Linked DNA regions of Homo sapiens: region 1 is linked to region 2. The links come from fine-mapping of genetic effects on gene expression. Tissue or cell type: whole blood. Region 2 holds a variant in brackets; the other region holds the start of a gene. All regions are shown on one strand. Distances are from middle to middle.

What was found. PIP is the estimated chance that this variant, and not a neighbour inherited with it, causes the effect.
Region 1: FCN1 starts here. The variant in region 2 is fine-mapped to the expression of FCN1 in whole blood (TOPMed, PIP above 0.99).

Annotation. Positions count from the first base shown.
Region 1 is chr9:134,914,053-134,922,230 of GRCh38, reverse strand. FCN1 (ficolin 1) reads left to right here and starts at 4,319. Exons shown (of 9, transcript NM_002003.5): 1 at 4,319-4,462; 2 at 5,770-5,883; 3 at 7,422-7,475; 4 at 7,811-7,846. The coding sequence starts at 4,360.
Region 2 is chr9:134,889,553-134,897,730 of GRCh38, reverse strand. No RefSeq gene overlaps it. Among named protein-coding and RNA genes, the nearest start is that of FCN2, 13 kb to the right of the region's middle. RefSeq lists an enhancer at 7,426-7,926. The variant G/A (reference allele first, on the strand shown) is at 3,995.

The DNA of each region.
Region 1 (8,178 bases), 24 kb before region 2:
CTCCACGTTGCCACCGAGCATGCATTCCTTCACACTGCTGTTCAGTTTTGCCCACTTTCAAACTCTGTACAGATGCAAATGAACAGTTCGCATGCCTTAGTGCTGGCGCCCTGGATGCTCCGTGTGCTTGCGGATTTCAACAAAGCTTTTGCGTGAAGCTGGAATCCGATCATTTTATGGGTCTACAGGATGCTCCAGTATGAACGAACCTCAGCTGACGGCCCCATTCTGCTGCGGATGGACGTTTGGGTTGTTTCCGGCGTGGGGCTGGACATTTTCACACGTGTCTTCTTTCCAGCTGGGCACACCTCTCTGTTGAGTAGAACTGAGCTGAACATCGCTGGTTATGGAATATGCTGGTCGTAGGGAATTGTTGGGAATACTGCCAGTTTTCCGAAGTGCTTGTACCAAGGTTTCTGACACTTCTTCACCAAAACCTTGCAGAGTTGGCTGTTTAGAAAAATTTTAGTGTCTGCAGTCATCTCATGAGATTTAAGTTTTCATTTCTTGGATTAGTTATGAAGTTGAGCATGTTTTCATACTTCCATCATCTATTAAATATTATCTTTTATAAGCGTTTGTTGAAGTCACTTTCCCACTTTCTACAACATCGTTGATTTACAGAAACCCTTTATTCTGGATACAAGCCTTTTGTCACTTCTGTGTGTTGAAACCTCTCTTCCCTCACCCTGGCTCGTCTTTTCCCTCCCACGGTGGTGTATTTTGAAAAAGAAATAATACTATTTTCATGATCAATTTTTCCACTTGTCCTTTATGGTTTGTGGTTTTCCATCTTATTTAAAATAACTGCAAGGCTATTGGAGATCTTATAATATGATCTAAAACTGCTGTTTTCCCTCTCACATTTGGGTCTACCCTTCTCCTGATGTGGATTTTTTTTTCATCTGATAAAAGTCAAGTGTAACTTCTTGTTTTTCCATATGACTCTCCAGTAGTTTGTGCCACTCATTGAAAGTTTATTCTTTCACTATTGCTCTTTAGAGCCACCATGTCATAAATCTAGGGTCCGTATGTGCCTGGATTTGCTTCTGCACTCCCTACTCACTTCCCTAGGTTTGCTGTGTACGCCTAAGCCAGCCCCACACTGTCTCCATCACTATCGCTTGATAATGACTGCTGGTGTCACTTCAAGCAACTCACCCTTGTTTTTTCTTGCTCAAGAATAGCATGGCTATCAGCCTCTTGCCTTTATATAAATTTTATTTATTTATTTATTTATTTGTTTATTTATTTAGACAGAGTTTCACTCTGTTGCCCAGGCTGGAGTGCAGTGGTGCAATCTCGGCTCACTGCAACCTCCACCTCCCGGGTTCAAGCAATTCTCCCACCTCAGCCTCCTGAGTAGCTGGGACTACAGGCATGTACCACCACACCCTGCTAAATATATATATTATATATTTTTTGAGATGGAATCTCACTCTGTCGTCCAGGCTGGAGTACAGTGGCTCGATCTTGGCTCACTGCAACCTCCGCCTCCTGGGTTCAAGCAATTCTCCTGTCTCAGCCTCCTAAGTAGCTGGGTTTACAGGTGCCCACCATCATGCCTAGCTAATTTTTGTATTTTTAGTAGAGACAGGGTTTTACCATGTTGGCCAGGCTGGTCTTGAATTCCTGACCTCAAGTAATCTACCTGTCTCAGCCTCCTAAAGTGATGGGATTACAGGTGTGAGCCACTGCACCCGGCCCTTTATATAAATTTTAAATTCACCATGTCAATTGTCACAGAAAATGGTAGTTTAATTGATAATACAGTGGATATTTAGATAAATTAAGAGAAGATGAATGTTTTTCCTATATTTGGTATTCTAATCCACACATATAGAATATCCTTCTAATTATTTTAATCTTCTTTTAGGTCTTTCTGTTCCTATTTGATAGTTTTGTACACAGAAGACCAGCATGGATGTTGTTAGACTTATTCACAGTTATTTGAATTTGGTGTTGCTGATGCAAATTTTTTAAATTTCATTTTTAAATTCTTTGAGGCTAGTTTTTAGAAGCACAATTGATTTTTGCTAAACTTTTTATTCTGCTAGTTTATCTGTAGAAACTCTAGAATTTTCTACATCCTCAATCATGTCTTCTGAAAATAACAACTTTGTGTCTGCCTTTCCAATCTTTTTATGGTTTTGTTCTCTTGCCTACTGCACTGGACAGTGACATGCAATACAATGTTGACCACAGTGGTGATGACAAGCATCCTTATTTGTTCTCAGTCTCTGAGGATGGTTTTCCATTTTTCCTGTTAATTATGTTGTAACTTCTGTATCCACAGCTTCCAAAGACCTCTTTCTATATTCTGTTGTTTCTGTTGGTCCTTATACACATTGTCTTTTATTCCCATGAGCCTGGTTATCGTTGATTGTGTTTTAACATTTCATTTGAAAAAAATAAAACACTTTGCAGAAATAATGACCTGGGATGATGTCATTCTCCTTCAGAGAAGATTTTTGTTTCTTTCAGCAAGGAGCCTGGGGGCATGAGCAATAATTCCAGGAGTTGAGATTCCTTTCCTGGGACACTTAGATGTCTCAAAACCAGTTTGCAGCCCTTGTGAATGTTGGTTGTTGCTCACTCATCCTATTGCTAGGGTGCAGCCCTTCTGAAAGCCAACCCCAAACCCATACCTTTGGCAGGCCGTAGGCCCCAGTCTTTGACCTTCAGCTCTGCAAGATGGTGAAATCACTGCCCAACTTCTCACCTCTCTTTTGGAGATTGGCAAATCCCTGTGCAAAAAGAGGTCCCCACTACTAGTTTCACTTCTCTAAGATTTCTGTGGCTCCTGAGAGCTTGGCAAAGTAATCCTTTACTACATAGCTAGCTTGACGGTGCCTTCGAGCAAATCTCTTTTTAAAGGTTTTGTCTGTTTGTCCTTAATAGGATGCCCCCAAATACCTAAACTGCCATTGCCAGGAATCAAATGACTTTTGTTGATCCAATGTTAAGATATTTTAACTTGCCAGAATCTTGCATTCTTTCATACTCTTGGGAACATTGACTTGATATCTGAAGGTGGTGTTGACTTCTCACCTGAAATAAACCTATTGATGTTGCAAGGAAGAGGAGGTCCCCTCACACCCAGGGGGCAGCTGGCAAATGGAATTGAGGGGCACAGACCTGCTGGCTTTCTCCCTGTTCTGACCCAATCCCAGGTGAGTGCTGCTCCTGAATTGGATCCTCTCCAAGAAAGGAGGCCGCACCACTGACACCCAGACCTCTCCCGCCTGGGCCAGTAGCTCAGGGACACTAAGCGGTGTCTGAGGCAATGAAGCCTCCTGCCGTTGTCTCTCAACAGGCTGGAGCCAACACACACAAACACACACAGTCGAGAGTCGTTGTGGTGCCCAGAGAGCCTGGACACAAGGTCCTGTGTCTCCTGGATCCCCCACCCCTGGGCCGCCCCTCCACTTCTCTCCCACCTGGGGAGCCCTTGAGTTTGGAAACCCAGTCTACACACGCTGGCTCAGAGAAGTTGCAAACCACAAAACAACACCTCTCCCTGCTCCTTAGTCCTGCTACCATCTGACTCTCGTTAGTGACTATTTCTATACGTTCTAAAAATCCCGCACAAAGTGTCCACAGCGTGGCCTGGCTAAGCATGATTCACAGCACGAGATGCGGAGTAGGAACATGGCCTCAGGGATTTGGGGGAACAAGAGGCATCCCCACCTTCAGGTGAAATGAGCAATCCCAGTGATCTACAAGGCGTTAGACAGAATTGAGTCCAATGCCTGGCTCTTACTAGTGGAGTGACTTCAATTTCTCCAGCTGTAACTTTCAAATAATTTACTCCACCGAATGGGGCTGGTGCAAGATGATATGATGGAAATAGTATTTGGGACATAACAAGTGCTCAACATTTTTTTCCTCTCCATCCATGATAAGTGCCTGATGACGGACAAACCCTGAATTTTCTGGGAACAGATGAGGCAAGGAAGCGTCTTCAGCAAAACCTTCCTTATCCCCCAAGGTTAAGGTCAAGGTTTCCGAGTATTGCTTGGGGACAGCTGGGGAATGGAAAGGGGGTGTGGGGGCTGTGTTCTCCTTAAGCCACAAGCAAAGCCGATGCTTTCCAGCAGAGGAGTCTCAGGAGCTCTCTGGACTGGGAGCAGGGTGTCTTTGCTGGGGGAAGAGAGCCCAATGGGGTGGGCATCTTGCTGGAGCCTAGTGGAAGGAAACATCCTTTGAGATGACCTCATACCTCCTGTTGGTGCAACTAAGCAGCCCATAGGAAGTGGGTGTCCCCCAGGGAGTTGAGAAACTGTGGCACAAGGCGAGAGCTGGTTTCCTCTGCCCTGTTAGAGCTGGGGGACTCTTCAGAGTCAAAGGCCAGAGAGCATGGAGCTGAGTGGAGCCACCATGGCCCGGGGGCTCGCTGTCCTGCTAGTCTTGTTCCTGCATATCAAGAACCTGCCTGCCCAGGCTGCGGACACATGTCCAGGTGAGACAGACCTGGGTTTTCTGGTCCCTAAAAGCTGGTAACAACCCCACTCACTGACACTCGGGTGTCCCAGGCAAAACCTTTTATGCACATCTTCCTGTGAAGATGCCCAACAGATCTGTTTTATCCTCAGGCAAGGACATGGAGGCTCAGGGCAGCTGAGGCATTGCCCAGGGTCATGGAGGGATAGGGGAGGGATGTCACCAGGTCTGTCTGCCTCGAAAGCCCAGGATTTGCCCATTGGAGCTTCATAGGTGGGTCTGGAATCTGTCACTGAGAAGGAAGAAAATACTGTTGACTTTATCTTCTTACGGGCTTACCAGGGAGGCACTCTAAGACCCTCTAATACGGTGGCTGCCACACGGACTTGGGGGGTTTGTTAAAAAGGCAGATTTCTGGCTCTCCTCCAAGAGAGTCGGAATCAGTTGATAGGGACAAGGGTTTGAACGGTGGTAAGGTGTTTCCCTCACTGATTCAGGAGCAGGTGGTTCTGTGACGCTCAGCAAGAGACTGCTCCTAAGGACGGCCTGGTGCCCCTGGCTGATAACATATTTATGAAGGAAACATAAATAGTAAATTACAGCCTGCTCTAGTGGAAGGAGGACTGGAAACACAGAAAGGAAATACCCCAAAAATGGCAGTGCCATGTCTCCGGTGAGAGCACTGCTCCGTTCCATGGTCTCTAAGAGCGCCCTTAGCAGGGCGTGTAGATTTTGTAATGAACAAAATGAAAAATATTTTTTCAAAGAAGTAAACAACTTTGGTTTGGCTGCAGCTGTGCCACACCTGGCTCTGTGTCCTTGGACCCCACACTGCCCCTCTCCAGAGGACCTAGAAAGCCCCTTCCAGCCCAGTAATTCTACAACCACATTCCCAAGGTCTGGGAGGGAAAATGCTTTGTCAGCCCCAATTCCCCAAGTTTCTTAGAAATATTGATTGTCATTAGTTATTGAAAGTGCCCGCTGTTTATTAAGCTCTTTCTAAATGCCATAAATTACAATAAGAGATTTAAAATGCACATTCTTTAACCAAATCCTGGCCGCAACCTTGTTATTATCCCCGCTTGGCAGCCCAGGGCACAAAGCTCAGAGGAGTTAAGTTACTTGCTGCAGGACACACAGCACTGAGGAGATGGGGCTCCCCTAGGTCGGGGTGGCCTCCAAAGCCAGAGCTCTGCCCCCCATCACATCTCCGCCTCACCAGTGCCTGAGGGGTGAGGACAGACCAAGGCCCCAGCAGAGCAGAAAACCTCACTTCCCAGCCACTGTTGGGCCAGGCACTGAGTGGGCACCTGTGTTTCTCTGCAGAGGTGAAGGTGGTGGGCCTGGAGGGCTCTGACAAGCTCACCATTCTCCGAGGCTGCCCGGGGCTGCCCGGGGCCCCAGGGCCAAAGGGAGAGGCAGGTGTCATTGGAGAGAGAGGTAGGTGCGGGCCGGGTGGGGAGGCCAGGCATGGCAGGGGCACTGGCTCTTGCTCTTTATGAAACTGGATGCAGAGTTGGGCAACACCCCCACCGTGGTTCCTAGATCAAGAGCCTGGGTCAGGCCCCTGCTAGAGCCAGGAACAGAGCTGACTCCCAGGGCCCAACAGGGTTCTGAAATGGAGGGAGGGTCTTTCCTAACTATTTCATGAGCTCACATTTGGACATGCTTCTGTAGCTCTGTCTCCTAGTCCTTGATCCAATACCAGCTTTGCTCAGCTACTGGCACGACTTCTAAGCTCTGTGTCCCTCCACCTTCTCACCTGAAAATTGAGGTGACCGCTTTCTTCTGCACCTGCCTCATATGGGAAAACTGAGACTCAAAGAGGTCACAGGCTTTCCTACTTGACAAACCAGTAAGGAGTGGGGCTGGGACTTGGACTGGTCTACTTCAGGGCACAGAGGGCACCCGAATCCTGAGCCCTGAGCTCTGCATGTGGATTTGCAGGGAACATGGGAGAATGAACAGCAGGCACCTGCCTTGGGTGGTTTTGGGTCCCCCTAAGCATGGCATAAGGCAGACGTGCACAAAAACTCAGAAAGGGCGCTGCCTTAGGGGGTGAGCTCCCCATGCCTGGACGCATTCAAGATGATGCCTGCGGAGCACTTGGTGGGGATGTCCCAGTGTAGATGGGACAAGCTCAAATGTCCCTATGACTTGGACTTTCACTGACGTGTCTAGGCTTCCGTGTGGGTGTCCGGGGCCAGGTCCTCTGTGCCCACTCCGCAGGCTGGACCTGAGAGTGCGGTCCCGATCCCCTGCTGAGGGAACACTGGGGAGGAAGACCTTCCCTGGCAGGAGAAGAATCAAGTCTGGCTCAGACTTCCCTTGAACCAGGCTTCTACCAGTGGGCATGGCTGGCTAATATACCCTAAAGCAAGAACCAGCCCCCATACACTCTCCCCAGCCACTGGGGTCAGCGAGCGGGCTGGGGGCTGCCTCTTGGCTGGCATCGGGGACGGGAGGGTCACCTTTCTGGCCAGAACCACGTGGAGCGCTGTGTGACACCCCAGGAGCTCAGGCGCACGGTGGAACCGGATCCTCCCTGGCAGCAGCGGCTGCACGTGGCGCCCACCCTCTCCGTGTGGGGACGTGGTAGGATGAGGCTCTCTGAGGACGCATTCTTTGTTCCAGAACCTGGTCCCTTGCTAGGCAGTAGAGCTCTGTGTGGGTGACTTGGGTCCAGGCTTATGGTCAACAGAGTGTGAAACCCAGGTTGCTCCCAAGGCACAAACAGGAGCAAGGTGCACCTTGCCTTGAGCCCAAGGTGGGGTGCAGGCCCCTCCCTCAATCCCTCACCTCCATCTGCAGTCACCCCCAGGCTAAATCCATGGCTAGCAATTCTGAGAGCTCCTGGAACCAGAAGGGGTTCAAGGCAGAGTGGGGGAGGGTCAGGACTTAACCACTTGGGGCAAAGATTTCCAGGGAGAATTGTTTAGGTTGCATTTTTCTCAGTGATATGTCTTTGGAATTTTCAGGAGAACGCGGTCTCCCTGGAGCCCCTGGAAAGGCAGGACCAGTGGGGCCCAAAGGTAACCAGGGGACAGACAGCGAGGAGGCCTTGAGCAGGGACCTTGGAGCTGTCTGTAATGAAATGAGGGAGGGAGAGACAGAGACAGAGACACAGACACAGACACAGAGAGACACGGCAACAGAGAGAGAAAGACAGTGGCAGGCGGACAGGGACCCTGGGATATTCCAGGCCTCGGGGCCCCTCCCCACCATTGAGACCTGGGCGTTGTGATGCCTTAGTGAGCCTGCAGGGCTGGGGAGATGCAGTGTCCAGGCCGGGAGCCCACTCTGGACCAGCCTTTCCGTGGCCCACACATCTGGGGTCAAAAGCTCATTATCCTGCCTCTTCCTCCAGGAGACCGAGGAGAGAAGGGGATGCGTGGAGAGAAAGGTGAGCCACCCGTGGGCCCAGGCAGTTGTCTCTGCAGGCTTTGTCCAGGGGAGGGGTCTCAGAGGCCTCAGTCCGCCTGCCCACCGCCCACGTCCCTGTCAATCCAGGCTGTGGGCAGGGAGGGGTGGAAGGAGTCCAGCGGGCTTTGTTGTCAGAATCCACGAGGGCTCAAACCCTGGTGTCTACAGCAGTCACTCCCAGTGGCCAGCAGGACCACATCAGTGCATAGATGGTGACACTTCAATATTTCAATTTCTGTCTTACTTATGCTCATTTATGCAAAAATTGTAAAAGTTTAAAAAAGCCAAATGTGCAAGACTCTAATACACTGT
Region 2 (8,178 bases):
GAAGTAGAAGTCGGCACTTCCAGTTCTATGATCTAATTTTACACTTAGGTTTCCAGGTCACTAGAGCTTGCACATTGAGCATTTTTTTAAATGGCCATTTAATACTCACTGGAGGAAATGGACATCCTCTTATTGTTGAACACTTATAATCTATCCAGTGTTTCCTCTTATCGTTGAATACTGATATCCTAGCCAGTAATTAACACGTTTATGTACACGCTTTTTTCTCTTACGTTGCATTTTTTTTCCAAGAGTAAGTTCTCTGGTAAGCTTATTGATTCAAAGGGTACAAGCTTTTCTTTAAGTTCACGTAGTGTCATAAGTGACACTTATGAAACAGATTCAAGTCATAATACCACATCCCCATAAAACAATCTATCTAAGGCATGTAAATATTCACTGTAATTAATTTGATCCTTATTGCATGTTTTAAAAACATTTCAACTTGCTTTTGATTTGGATCTCTCTCACCTTTATTCTGAGGGATGGGTGGGGGGCCTGGGGACACATGGCCCACAGAAGGCTGGAGATGGAGTGGGAGGCAGGCTGACTTGTCATCTCTGTTTGATGTGCTGCTGTGTGACTTCCTACCACAGCTCATCAGCGGAGAAGAGGGAGGGCTCTAGGCATCACCCACTGAGATTTTGGTTCTAAAAGTCTGGGATGGGGCCCCTGAATCTGTATTTTTCAGAGCCTCCCCAGGTGGCTCCGACGGACAGTTAGGTTGAGGAACCACTAGCGTGCTAGTTTCAGAGAGCCGAGTAGAAGGTTTTAGTGCAAGCGAACAAAACCCGGAGATCTTCTGGCTCATCAGAGCAAACTCATATTAAAGAAGACAGCAATCCTGGAAGGGAAAAGAGAGATAAACGAATTAACGCAAATGGGTTTCAATTAGAATCCAGGCTCGCACAGCCCAGAGAAACAGGAGCTGGGAAGCCAGGTAGGTATCAGCCGAGCCAAGCATTCATCAGAGCCAAGCATGCTGGATACGTGATGGCCGCTCCAGGTTTTGTTTTTGTTTTTGGATGTGCGTTCTGTCCTTGACTCACATGTCTTGGCCATCAGCCCAGTAGAGGCCCTTCCCGACGGTACGGGGTAAACAACCTTGGACTTCCCGCCATACAGGTCACTTGGCCCACTTTGAAGATTAGCTTTTATGGAGAAGCAGAACTGCATTTGACAAGAGGAAGACCTTCCAATGTCAGTCACCACCATCCCAGGCCACACTGATCTGGTGGCTGCTCATGCCAGTAGTGAGCTTCTTGTGCCTGTGGGTCTGCTGGGAGCTACAGAGGCACTGACTTGAGTTCTGGGTGGTAAGATCACCCAGAGCAGCTGCCCCTTAATTTCCAGTTCTCAGATTTGATGATTCATGTTTCAACCCCAATGAAATTGTAGAACACCCATGCCGTCATGGAAGGCACAGGGCTCTGGGAGGGCCCGTTTGCTACCTTGGGACAGATGGACATATCCAGATTGTCCTTGGCTCTGCTGGCTTCCCGACTGGGACTTCTGCCACATCTTGGGGTGGGCGGGTGGGCTTCCAGCCTCCTGTAAAGCTGCAGGAATCAGATAACTGGCTGCCCCCCACCCATATGGCCTCTGGCTGATGAGTCACAGTGGCAATGAAAACCAAACTGAGTAGCTCAAGTGCAGCTAAAGAAATCAGTAGGAGGCCAACTTGGCACAAAGCCCAGAGTAAGTTTTTGAACCAGGAGGAGAATGCAGGTTTCTCCTCTCCTCGCCTGGGCCACCTCTTTGTAAAGATAAGAAACAGCAGCTATTTTAACAGGCAATCTTAATATCTCAGGGCTGATACACAATGCAAGTTTGTTTCTTGCCCAGGTCATAGTCCAGGGCAGGACATGGTGACAAGAATCACTCCTGCAGTGATTTAAAAAACCAGATTTCTTCTGGGCATCTTCTTTCCTGAGATAGAAATTTGGCTCATATTTCATTCAGATTTGATGCACTTCTTTGCCAATTTATCCCCATGCCTCCCTGTATCTCTCATCTTAAGGAAGTCTTTCTTAAAGTTTTCAGGCTTGGGCAGGAAGGATCTTTACTACAATTTTGAGTCACTCTGTTCAAAACAACGTATTCCATTGATCCTTCTTACCCTAGTGCTTTTAAAACCTCATCTCGTACTGTTTGGAGTCTAACAATGTTCAGGCATTTTCCAACTCTGCGAGATTTCCAATTCCTAGTCTCTTTAATCCATTTTTTTTCCTGCTTGCTAATTTCTTTTCTAAACTCTTCTTTCTCTTGTAACACCTAGTCAGACAGCCAATAAAAATAAACACACACTGAAAGTTCTGTTTTTCAAGTCGATCCCCTGGGGCTGGAAGAGACGTTCCAAGGAACTGCCTTCCAAGTTATTGAAGACAACATGTTCATCAAACAAAACTCTGCAGCCCTCCACCCACCATGTGGCTGCTAGGCCAGTGCCTTGGATTTTAGGTGTCTGTTGCCACGCTCTTGCACTTCTGGTACCAATCTCTGCATGAGTCAGTGTAAGCACAAATAGCTGCTATAACAAACAACCCCTCAGGATCACAGTGTCATCATTTCCCCTTGTGCTGCAATGCAGGGCCCATGCAGTGCAATGCAGGTTTACAGAGGGCTTTGGGGTTCCTCACCAGGACATGGGACAGAAGGTTTGGGGGGCCAGTTTAGAAAGGGGTCTGCATAATCTCTGTGAACATCCCATTGACTAAATCTCCATCATATAGTCTCATCTAACTGCAAGAGAGGTTTAGAAAAGCAGCCTTCTTGTACCCTCAGGAGGGGGAAAAACAGGCTTAGTGAACATATAACACTATGTCTGTCTCAATGCCACAAGGCATGCCTTTTATAAACAATAATGAGAAATTCTCCTGGAGTGATGGGAGCACGTACGGTAACGATGCAGCCATCTTCCCCAAGGGTTTGCCATTTGTGTATGGATTGGAATGTGAATTGTCTGTATTTGCACTTAAATCTGGACATCCACCTGATGCAGGGTAGGTGAGCCCCAAATTGGGGCTTAGCCCAGGAGGGTTCTTGGCTTCACCCAGGAAAGAATTTAAGGGTGAGCTGGTGGCATCAAACAGCAACTTCTATTGAAGCGGCCATGTACAGCAGTAGCCAAGTTACCCTCCTTGCAGAGCAGGGCTCCCCATAGGCAGTGTGCCCAGAGCAGCAGCTCAGAGGCAGTTCTGCAGACATACTTATACCCACTTTTAACTAAATGCAAATTAAAGGTGGTTTATACAGAAATTTCTAGGAAAAGAGTGGTGACTTCTGGGTCATCAAGTCATTGCCATGGAAAGGGGTGGTAACTTCTGGGTGTTGCCGTGGGCAATGGTAAACTGACATGGCACATGGGTGGGTGTGTCTTATTGAAAGCTGCTTTCACCTTGGCCCTGTTTCAGCTAGTCCTCATCTGATCCAGTGTCCAATCCCTGCCTCCAGAGTCACGTCCCGCCTCCTAACTCTCTCTCAGGTCAGACAGGCAGTGAGAGAGTAACTGGGGAGTTCTGGCTCCTATAAGGATTCAGGAGAACTTCAGGCTGAGCCTGGAAGAAAGAAACAGGACAGGACTCACTGGAGCCACTGCTTTGAGTCTTCCATTTAGGCCGTTTGTCTGATGCTATTGGAAAAGGCCTCGTTCTCCTGGTGAGAGGGCAGGCTCCTTCAGAGCAGGAATTCACTGCCTTGTACTCCAGAGAGGGCTGTGCACCCAGCAGATGTTCCATGGGGGTAGTGGGAGAAGGGCTTGGCTTAGTCTTTCTTCACTAAGTGATTAGTGTCATTCTAGTGAAGAAAAGAGAAGGTGAAGGTCAGTGGGGCAGGTGTCCTGAACTCTGTGTCTTCCTGACTTTGAGGATAGGGCATGCAGTGTTTTGGGGATTTTTTTTTTTTTTTTTTTTGAGATGGAGTCTTGCTCTGTCACCCAGGCTGGAGTGCAGTGGTGCGATCTCGGCTCACTGCAAGCTCCACCTCCCAGGTTCAC[G/A]CCATTCTTCTGCCTCAGCCTCCCAAGTAGCTGGGACTACAGGCACCCGCCACCACACCCAGCTAATTTTTGTGTGTATTTTTTTAGTAGAGACGGGGTTTCACCGTGTTAGCCAGGATGGTCTCGATCTCCTGACCTTGTGATCTACCCTCCTCGGCCTCCCAAAGTGCTGGGATTACAGGCATGAGCCACTGTGCCCAGTGGTTTTGGGGATTTTTTACCTGTTGCATCTGACTGGGGCCACTGAGACTCCTCTTAGGACAACCGACCATCCTGGTGGCTAGGGCTTTTCCAGGAGATGGATGCTCAGTGCTAAAACTGGGCAGGCCCAGGCTCACTGGCACAAGTTGGCCACCCCACTCTTTCTGACTACAGGCTACTGGGAGAGGAAAGAAGCCTAGGACGCAGAGGAATAAAGGGACAAGAACAGACACCCAGAGAGGCTGGGGACAAAGAGATGCGAGGGGCCCTGAGTGCCCAGGAGCCTGGAACAGTGATGTCCTCCTAGCGTGGGGTCACCTCCCAAAATGCACAGTTCATGCTCTGCAGCAGGCCATGTTTTCTGCCTGTTACTCCCTGCTTGCCTTCGGCCACTTCCCAGAATGCTCTTTCCAGCTCTCCACTCCCATTCCCCAGCAGTGTTTCCATCTTGGTTGCTGTAAAGTGCAAAACTCAGAACCCAGGGCACAGGTGGGGAGTGACCTATGCAGAGGCGAGTGTGGCATCTTCCTTGTTCTAGATGTCAGGCCTTTGTGAATGCAGCCTAAAACCACATCCTACCTTTGGTGAGCAACATTACGCTCTGCCTAGAGCCAGCTGAGCCTGGAATCCACAAGACGGCCCTTTCCCAGTTCTTTTTTTTATAAATTGCACTTAAGGCATGGAGTCATTGGAAGAACTCAGAAACCCATGGTGAGGGGTAGGGAAGGGGCAGGGGACACGGGGGTTTGGGTCAATGGAGGCAAGAACACCTGGTTTCAGGGTTTGGGTGCCTATCAGTCACAGCTCCCAACCATCAGCTTATTGGAGGGAGACAGTGTCCCTCAGGCCAGGAGAGAGAGAAGAGAGCCAGTTCTCCCTCAAGCAGATTCTGAAGGCAATAAAGGCAGACAGCCTGGCCTCTGCTCTGACCCCAGGGAGCCCGCCCTGGCTAGTGTGGGCAGCAGGTGAGGGAGGCCTTTGCTGGAGCCTGGCCCACAGCAGGTGGCTCCATCCTCCTCTCCCAGGTCTGGATACACAACAGAGTCAATCCCTGCCCGCCACCCCTATGCCAAGGCACAGCTCCCAACACCCTCAACAGAACAGCCTGGACTCTCAGCCCAAGGAGACAGGCAGGTGACAGGAGGTGTAGGGGCAGGCCAGGCAGGGCTAGGCAGGGCTGGAGCCCACAACAAAGACCTATAGCCAAGGGCTCCTGCGCCCAGGGAAAGGCCCGAACAGAAGGGGAGGCCTCACGGGCAAGGGCTGTCAGCTGGGCAGGGGGTGCCCTAGGAGGAGGACTGGCAGCTGGGCCGGGTGTGTGATGCTGTGCTACGCTTCCTGGCCCTTCAGCACATTGCAAACCCAGTGTGGGAGCACATTCTTCTTACTCCCCGGGGCCTTCAAATCCACCCTGCCATCCCATGTTACACGAGAAGGAAGATTCAGAGAGGTCAGGTCACAGATCAAGGCCACACAGCCCAGGTCTGTGAGGGCAAAATGCCACTGCACTTCACAGCTGAAATGAAGAGACTTTGCTTTTGAAGGAGGCAAGTTCTACTCTGAGACCCTGCCTGGGAGCACAAGCCACACATAGTGCCACGTGGCCAATGTCTCCATAAACACGTACAGGCAGCTGAACAGGACCAGGGACCAAAGGGCCCCAGGCAGGGCCACTGACACCAAGGCCAGGAGGCCTCACAGAGCCCCATGCTCGGTCAGTTCCTCCTGAAGACTGGACAGGAAGAGGGGGTGGGGATCAGGCTGCAGCAAATCCATCGCCCAAGGGCTGAGAGCCCAAGGGCAGGATGGAAGGGTCCTAGGGTTCCACAGAGCACCCGCTACTGCTCGGAAGGCAGAGCACAGGGAAGACAAAACCAGAAAGCACATCAGATTCTGGAGAGGTGAAGGCGAGTGAGAATGAGGTCTGGAAAAGGTGTAGCAGGGGCAGGGTGGAGAATGAGGATCCCAGGGAAGGGTCAAGTTGTGCTCCCATTCCCAGAGAGCATCACACCTTCATGGGGAGAGTCCTCAGAGGTGGAGGACTGCCCTGGGCCTAGATTTGTTAAATGGCCCTCTCTCCTGCAGAGGAGCTTTCTGAGTACACTGCTTCACCTTCCTGATACATGGGGTTCCAGCCCTGCAGGGCGGGCTCCTTTCTCATCCTAAGGACGGGGACTTCCTGATGTTGCAACCACCCAGTGGGTTCAGCTTGCCTGCTGCCCAGACAGAGCCAATTTATCAAGACAGGAGAATTGCAATCGAGAAAGAGTAATTTACGCAGAGCCGCCGTGCAGGATACTGGACTAGAGTTTCATTATTACCAAATCAGTCTACCCGAGCATTCAGGGATCAGAGTGTTTAAGGACAACTTGGTGAGTTGGGGGGAAGCGAATGAGCCAGGAGTGCTGATTGGTCAGGGTTGGGGGGAAGCCAAAGAGCTGGACATACTGATTGGTCAGAGATGAAATCACAGGGAGTCAGAATTGTCTTCTTGCACTGAGTCAGTTCCTAGGTGGGGGCCACAAGATCAGACGAGCCAGTTTATTGAGCTGGGTGGTGCCAGCTGATCCATCAAGTGCAAGGTCTGCAAAATATCCCAAGTACTGACTTCAGGAGCAGTTGAGAGAGGGTCAGAATCGTGTAGCCTTCAGCTGCATGACTCCTAAACCATAATTTCTAATCTTGTGGCTAATTTGTCCTACAAAAGGAGTCTAGTCCTCAGGCAAGAAGGAGGTTTTGGGAAAGGGCTATTATCATCTTTGTTTTGAACTATAAACTAAGTTCCTCCCAAAGTTAGTTCAGCCTATGCCTAGGAATGAACAAGCACAGCTTGGAGGTTAGAAGCAAGATGGAGTTGGTTAAGTCAGATCTCTTTCATTGTCTCAGTCATAATTTTACAGTGGCGGTTTCAATGTCAGTTACTCCAGCCAAAGCAAGGCTTCACAGCTTTGGGGAAAATAAGCATCCTTATCCAGACCCCAAGAGAGGGTTCTTGGACCTCTCACAAGAAAGCATTTGGGGCGAGTTCATAAAGTAAAAGCCACTTTATTAAAGAAGTAAAGAAACAAAAGAATGACTACTCCATAGGCAGAGAAGCTCTGAGGACTGCTAACTGGCTATTTTTATACTTATTTCTTGATTACATACTAAACAAGGGGTGGATCTTTCATGAGTTTTCCAAGAAAGGGGCAGGGAACTGAGGGTCCCTCCCTTTTTTAGACCATACATAGTAAGTTCCGGAAGTTGCCATGGTGTTTGCAAACTGTCGTGGGAGTGTCCTTCAACATGCTAACGCATTATAATTAGCATATAGTGAGCAGTGAGGACGACCAGAAGTCACTTTTGTCACTGTCTTGGTTTTGGTGGGATTTGGCCGTCTTCTTTACCGCATCCTGACCTGTATTTTGTGATACCCGTCCTGCCAACCTCCTATGACTAAGAATGCCTAACCTCCTGGGACTGCAGCACAGCAGGCCTCAGCCTCATTTCACCCAGCCCCTATTCAAGATGGAGTCTGGCTTGAATGCCTCTGTCACCCCCAGCCTGGCCACAGAAACCACAGTTACAGTTAAGAATCTAGGGTCTAGTGGGCACAGGCCCCCTGCCAGCTGCTGCCCCTTCTTCCAGCCCTCCCGACAGCAGAGGCCTGAGACCTCTGAAGAGCAGGAAGGGAGGCAGCGGTCCCCAGCAGAGGGACAGGGACAGCCCAGCCCTGGGGACACTCTTGGCCTTGGCCTAGGCTCCAACCTGGCTCAGCCCCCTGCTCTGGAGGGGAGCCAGACACCCTGAGGCAGCACTGGTGGCCTGAAGGAGCCAAGTCTTTCAGGGGATGGGAGAAGCAGGCACCTGTGGCTCCCAGGTGCCCACCCAGTACCAGCTGGTCCTACAGAGCCCTTCCGATGCCTGCCTCAGTTACACCTCCCAGAGGCCCCGCAGGTGCACACACACACACACGTATGCACATGCGATGCACGTGTCATGCA